Homo sapiens: one gene and its partner. The protein of the gene in region 1 purifies or fractionates together with the protein of each later gene. This does not show direct contact. Each region holds a gene or a part of one and is shown on either strand. Other genes may lie near its edges.

What was found. The genes of interacting proteins can lie anywhere in the genome.
Region 2: the proteins of SYNPO (region 1) and PPP1R9A purify together in Homo sapiens (affinity purification with mass spectrometry; one large-scale study listed by BioGRID and IntAct). This does not show direct contact.

What each region holds. Positions count from the first base shown.
Region 1 is NC_000005.10:150,643,653-150,647,189, reverse strand, and holds part of SYNPO (synaptopodin), read right to left. Parts: intron 1-3,537. UniProt on the Homo sapiens protein: Actin-associated protein that may play a role in modulating actin-based shape and motility of dendritic spines and renal podocyte foot processes.
Region 2 is NC_000007.14:94,914,082-94,917,618, reverse strand, and holds part of PPP1R9A (neurabin-1), read right to left. Parts: intron 1-3,537. UniProt on the Homo sapiens protein: Binds to actin filaments (F-actin) and shows cross-linking activity. Binds along the sides of the F-actin. May be involved in neurite formation. Inhibits protein phosphatase 1-alpha activity.

The DNA.
Region 1 (3,537 bases):
CTCACTGCAACCTCCGCCTCCCAGGTTCAAGTGATTCTCCTGCCTCAGCCTCCCGAGTAGCTGGGACTACAGGCATGTGCCACCATGCCCGGCTAATTTTTGTATTTTTAGTAGAGATGGGGTTTCACCATGTAGGCCAGGCTGGTCTCGAACTCCTGACCTCAGGTGATCCACCCGCCTCGGCCTCCCAAAGTGCTGGGATTACAGGCGTGAGCCACCGTGCCCGGCCACCTGACTTGTTTATCACTCTAACAACAGCCCCTAGAACAGCACCTGTCATACAGTGGCACTCGGTAGATATTGCTGAATGCACAAATGAACCCCCAGAATATTTTCTGTGTGCCTTCCTTAGGGCCCTTTATACTTTCAGAATTATAGCATAGGAATGTGCTCTAATTTTTTTAAACAAAAATGTTTTAATAAACCACCGTCTGCTTTTTTTAATTTGTATTTATTTATTTTTTTGAGACAGTACCTTACTCTGTCACCCAGGCTGGAGTGCAATGATGAGATCTCAGCTCATTGCAGCCTCGACATCCTGGGATCAAGTGATTCTCCTGCCTCAGCTCCCCAAGTAGCTGGGACTACAGATGTATGCCACCATGCTCAGCTAATTTTTGTATTTTTTTTTGTAGAGACAGGGTTTCACCATGTTGCTTAGGCTGGTCTCAAACTCAGGTGGGCGCAAGTGATCCGCCCACCTCAGTCTCTCAAAGTGCTGGGATTACAGGCATGTGCTTTGATTTTATAAAGAGACGCCACTAATATTTCCCCTTTTTAGGGTAGGTAATACATTCACATAGTCTAAAAATTTATTTATTCATTCATTTTTATTTTATTTTTACTTTTCTGAGACAGGGTCTTGCTCTGTTGCCCAGGCTGGCATGCAGTGGCACCATCATAGCTCACTGCAGCCTCAACCTCCTGGGCTCAAGTCATCCTCCCACCTCGGCCTCCCAAATATCTGGACTATCGGTGTGCGCCACCACACTTAGCCAATTTTTTTTTTTTTTTGTATTTTTTGTAGAGAAGGGGTCTCCCTGTGTTGCCCAGGCTGGTCTCAAACTCCTGGGCCCAAGTGATACTCTGGCCTTGGCTTCCTAAAATGCTGAGATTATAGGCATGAGCCACTATACCTGGCCCTAAAAATTAAAACATAAAAAGGTATACAGTAAAAAGTGTCACCCCATCCCTGATTACTCTGTATCACAATCAGTTTCTTCTATCTCCTCCCAGGATTTCTTCCTAGTTTTACTTAAATACTCATTTTAAAATTCACATCTTTTAACACTAGAAAAGTAACAAATTGAGCTAGTTTCACCAATGACTACTGTAGAACATTGCATTCTTTTATTTTATCTGCACAAGACCACAATGAGACAAGCATTGCTTGCCTGTGTTTTACAGAAGAAGAAACGGAGGTTCAGAGATATATAAGGAACTGCCCCAAGGTTGCAAAGCCAAGGGTGACAAAGCTGGAGTCAGAACTGTTCTTTCTGGGGTCTCTAGTCCATGCTCAAGTGGTCTACTCATCCCAAAAGGTCTCTTTGGGACATAAGGGGCAGGAACAAGGTCATCATGGGTCGGGGTTCAGTCTGGGATTTGAGGTCCTGAGATCAGGCTGAGTTCAGTCCCCTATTAATCTATAAGATCACCATAGGCAACCATTTCTCTTTCTATCCCCAGTGGCCAGCTGGCACACAGTTGATGCTCAATTTATAATTGTTGAATAATAAATGAACAAATGCTGCATGAACAAATGCATTGACAGACAGGTGGATGGATCAGCCTGTGACCAGCAACATCAGTGGCTAAGAAAATTCCTCCCTCCATTGCCCCTCTCCTCCCTACTGTGGGAAGCTAATTAGTTCTTGAGGAATCTGACCCTGCCCTCCCCTCCCTTGCCCTCATTAGCACTGGCCATGGCATGCTGAGTCTGTCTCCAGGGACAGTCTTTCCAGGCATCTTGCCAGCGAGGCTCTGAATTCATGGACTCTCAGAGCTGGAAGAATTCTGACAGAGGAGGTATTTCATCACCACCCTGTTTTATAGGTGGGAAACAGAGATCCAGAGAGTAGCCCAGGGTAGAGCCGGGTGACCCCACATGGGACCCGCAGGGAGGCCCACACAGAGCAAAGAAGCTGTGACCAGCAGCGTCACAGCAGCTCCACTGGGGCAGCCACAGGTTTTCTGGCCCCAACCTCCTTCTTCCCTCCTCCATCGAACCTGGTTTTCCCCTAACCTATTAGAAACAGTGAAAGCACACAGCCTATCCCACCCACCCATGATATTACTCCCCCCGAGTAGGACTCTTCTCCTGCCTGGATCACCCTATCTATTAAAGATGTCTATTAGCCATCTATTAGCCAGGCTGCTCCCCTGGGAGGAGCCTAAGGGATGGGGTGCCAGCCACACTGGAGGGCTCTGAGAGGTTGCTCAGCTCATGCTGTGTCTGTCTCCCCTGCTCTGCTTAGAAACCAGGCCTCCTGGCCTGAATCCAAGCTCTGCCATTTGCTAGCCGTGTGACCTTGGCAAGTTACTGTACCTCTCAGAGCCACAGTCTCCTTAACTTGACATGAGTGTTGGGAGGCCACAAAGAGATCATGAAAATGCCAAGGCCTGACTGCCATGAAGCCCAGGTGGACAGACAGAGGGCTCATGCTATCCTGGCATAAGCTGGCAATTGGTCACCCCATTCCACTCCCTGGAAAAGGTCAGATACTCTTCTAGCACAGGGGATTGACTGAAGGTCAAATAGCAGGAGATTCCAGAGCTACACGGAGGCAGAGCTTACTGCCCCAAAACACAGAACCTCGGAATCTCAGAGGTGGCTGTCACCAAGTCCAATTCCCACACAATTCTTGCATCTTCAAAACAACATGCTGAGTGTGCAAGTCTCTGCTGACATACTCAGGTGACGAGCTCACTCCCCCGGGAGGTGTCTTCCACTAATTAACATTCCTCAGCTAGAAAGTTCCTCCTTACATTCACTTCCAATCACTTTTTTTTTTTTTTTTTTCTGAGACAGGGTCTTGCTCTGTCGCTGGAGGGCAGTGGCACCATCATGGTTCACTGTAGCCTCAACCTTCCAGGATCAAGTAATCCTCCCACCTCAGCCTCCTGAGTAACTGGGACTATAGGCATATGCCACTATGCCTGGCTAATTTTTGTATTTTTTGTAGAGACAGGATTTCACTATGTTGCCCAGGCTGATCTTGAACTCCTGAGCTCAAGTGATCCACCCACCTCAGCCTCCCAAAGTGCTGGGATTACAGGCGTGAGCCACCACGTCCAGCCATCATCCGCTTTCTTGATGTGGTTCTGCCTCCCCAGGCTGCACAGAGAAAAAGTCTTCTCAGCCGGGCGCGGTGGCTCGCGCCTGTAATCCTAGCATTTTGGGGGGCCAAGGCAGGTGGATCACGAGGTCAGGAGTTCGAGACCAGCCTGGCCAATATGGTGAAACCCCATCTCTACTAAAAATACAAAAATTAGCCAAGCGTGGTGGCGGGCGCCTGTAATCCCAGCTACTTGGGAGGC
Region 2 (3,537 bases), on another chromosome or scaffold:
CTAGACAACATAGTGAGACTTCATCTCTACAAAAAAAAAAAAAATAATAACAGGCATGGTGGCGCTTGCCTGTAGTCCTAGCTGCATGGGAGGCTGAGGCAGGAGAATTACTTGTGCCCCAGAGGTCAGGGCTGCAGTGAGCCATGACTGCATCACTGCACTACAGCCAGGGTGACAGAGCAAGACCTTGTCTCAAAAAAAATTAATTAAATTAACAAAAAACAAGAAACTTTAAATATTTCTATTACAAATAAATACCAGTAAACATCTGAAATAATCTGCTGTCAAAAGAATCCCTTTTTAAACACTAAATGATCACTGTTCAGTTTAAAAGTATAGCTATACCTCTGGATTTTAGAAAAGGGGTTCATTCAACAAATCTTCATTATTTGATTTTACAAAGTATATTAAAATATTTGACATATTTCATTTACCTGGTTATGAAGCATAGGTCATAAAACATAAAAATTTAAAAGGAAATCCAATTTAAATGTTATACCATCGGCTGGGCACAGTGGTTCACGCCTATAATCTCAGCACTTTGGGAGGCCAACGCGGTCAGATCACTTGAGGTCAGGAGTTCGAGACTAGCCTGGCCAACATGGTAAAAACCCTGTCTCTACTAAAAATATAAAAATTAGTCTGGAATAGTTGTGCATGCCTGTTGTCCCAGCTACTCAGAGGGCTGAGGCCTGAGAATCTCTTGAACCCAGGAGGTGGAGGTTTCAGTGAGCTGAGATCGTGCCACTGCACTCCAACCTGGGTGACAGAGCAAAGCTCCCTCTCAAAAAACAAAAAACAAAAAACAAACAAAAAAAAAGTTGTACCATCAAAGTTATCCAAGAAAAGCAAGTTAAATCATATGACCATTCTTATACTAAGTTTATTAATTTACACTTGCAAAAGAATGAAAGAAATGAAATTTCTGATTCCATTAAAAACTTCTTCCTCCCAACTTTTTATAACTAAAAACTTAAACCACACAAAGAGCCTAGGATGTGACTTTTTAATGACCCAAATGCCTTGAGTTAAGGATAATAATCCACTTTGGGATCCAGAAACAGAGTATTCATGCACTTTACAAGATTATACCTTATTTCATCTTCAGAGAATATTATTCCACCCAACCAGATATAGCAGCCCATCTGGAAAGGAAATTTATTACATGTTGCTTCCCTAACATGCTATGGCCAGCCACTTTCAGAAGCCAGAAGATTGTACTTCAAATTCATATTCCAAAGAGTGATCTCTTGATCAGCGGCATCGGCACCACTTGAGAGCTTGTTAGAAATGTAAAATCTAAGGTTCCCCTCCAGACATACTGTTAACGTGGTTTTCCTGTATTATTTCAGAATATGAAATTCTATTATAGAGGTAAACAAAACTAATGGGATGGATGAAACACTTAAGAAGTGATAATCATAGATGGTAAATAAACTAACAACTTATGAGACAGAGGCAACACTCAGGCTGGGCCAAGTATTGATAATGAGAATGCAAGCTGGTGAAATGAAGGCAGTCAGCAGATGCGTAATAAATAGGTAAGCTGGGAGTAAGACATGACAACAATAAAATAAATAGAAATTATGATAAAATGAATGAGATTTACTTATAGACAAAAAGCAGTGGAAATACCAAGTCACCATTATGCCTGGACTGATAGCTACATTACTTCCATATCAGTCATCTACTGAAGACACCAAGGATGGTCCCATGGCTCATCAGCAGGCAAACTAGCAAAGCTACGGCTGTACCTAAGTGTATTTGTCACATCTCTTCAACAGAACAAGTGTGTATCATCGACCCAGGAAATCATTAGTCTATGGAGTCTTGGCTCAAACATCAGCTCTGGTCCTCATAACCACATCATTAATGGGGAAGGGTTATGTGAAAGAAAGATGGGACATAGGAACATTGTTTATCCAGGACAGGTAGCGTGGTCCTTCCAACCTGGTTTGAACCTGAAGTGTGTTAACTTACTCCATAGCTTTCCTCTTGCTTCTGGATTTGTGTTTAACTGGTTTGGTAAATCATGTGATTCAAGCATTTTAATTTGTTTTCTGAGTCTTCTATTCCATAACCTCTGAGATAGCTTGCCTGCTGGTGTACTTGTAGCTCAACCATTGTATCAAGGTAATTTCCCATAGAATACCTACTGAATCAGAATCTTGATGCTAACAAGATCTCCCAAGTGATTCATATGCATATTAAAGTTTAAGAAGCACTGACAAAACTGTTATAAAGGAAGCCTCCGCAAAGACAAAAAGTTGGATCTCAACAGAACTATTCCCTGAAAACCATCCTGAACAAAAAAACTTCATATATCCATGAATGCCCTAACTATGACTCGGAGCCCCCAAAAAGGGAGAGAATACAAGAAGATCCATTTTCAACAACTATCATGTAAGGTTTGAAGAAGCTCTGGTGCCCTTGCTGATTATTTGAATTCTAATCCTGTAAAGCTCCATATGATTTGAGAAAACACAAAATATAGCACAATGTACCTCAATATTAACTCTGCAATATCCTTCTTACTGTGAGTTAGAAAAATCTTTTTCAGATATGCTGTTTCAAGAATAACAATCCATTGTAACACAATAGTATTTGAGGGGAAAAAAAAATACCAATCCAAAGGACATAAGAAACAGAGAAAGGTTGTGACTTCCTTAATGAGGCTGCAGCAACCTTAGAAAGATCATCAAAGCACAGAGTTGGGAACAGCCTGAGAGCTTCCTTAATGGGCTGTACACGTCCCACCGACCAGCAGCTCCTTACTTCATCAGCTCCTCATTTTATGTATTTGTTGTATTTGTTATATTTGCATTGTCCCTGACACATATTAGGGGCTCCATAAATGTTCTGAATTAGTAGAAAAAAATGACATGTCACCCTCTCTTGTTTTGATTCATCTAAGACAAATTTACTTTAATTCAATCCTTTCATTTTGAAAAATTCCTGAAAATGAAGGCATAATTCCATCTCGAATTAGCATGGTCCATAACATTCTCCCATGCCATATCTCAAAGTTGGATTTTAATTTGCTATTATTAATCCCATTCTAATATTTCATGACCCTATGAAACATAACAATCTATCTAATAAGAAATAACTGTCTGTGAAAGATAGGAAAGTCATACTAACTGATGGCTGGCAATACAGTCTGACCATTTTTAAAAATCAAGGTATATGTACAAGTACAAGGTATATGCTACACAGGAAAGATCAACTATTATTCTGATGTTTTTCTAAGTCCAGATTTAAGACATCTTATGGAAATATCTATGTAAAACATCTATAAAAAGAACTGAAGTAGTCACTGAGGACAATATTACACATACAAAGATGATAAATAAGATCTATAACAAAAAACTAAAGGTGCTAGGAATTTTTAACCTAGTACAGAATAAAGTGACAGCCAGGAAAAGAATGTAAAAGTTCTAAAAATCATTTATTTAAAGAATACATTCCCTGTTGCTTCTTTAAGAGGAAGTATGTTTAAGCTTCAAAGGAAAAGACTGAGGTTAGGAATTGCAACTT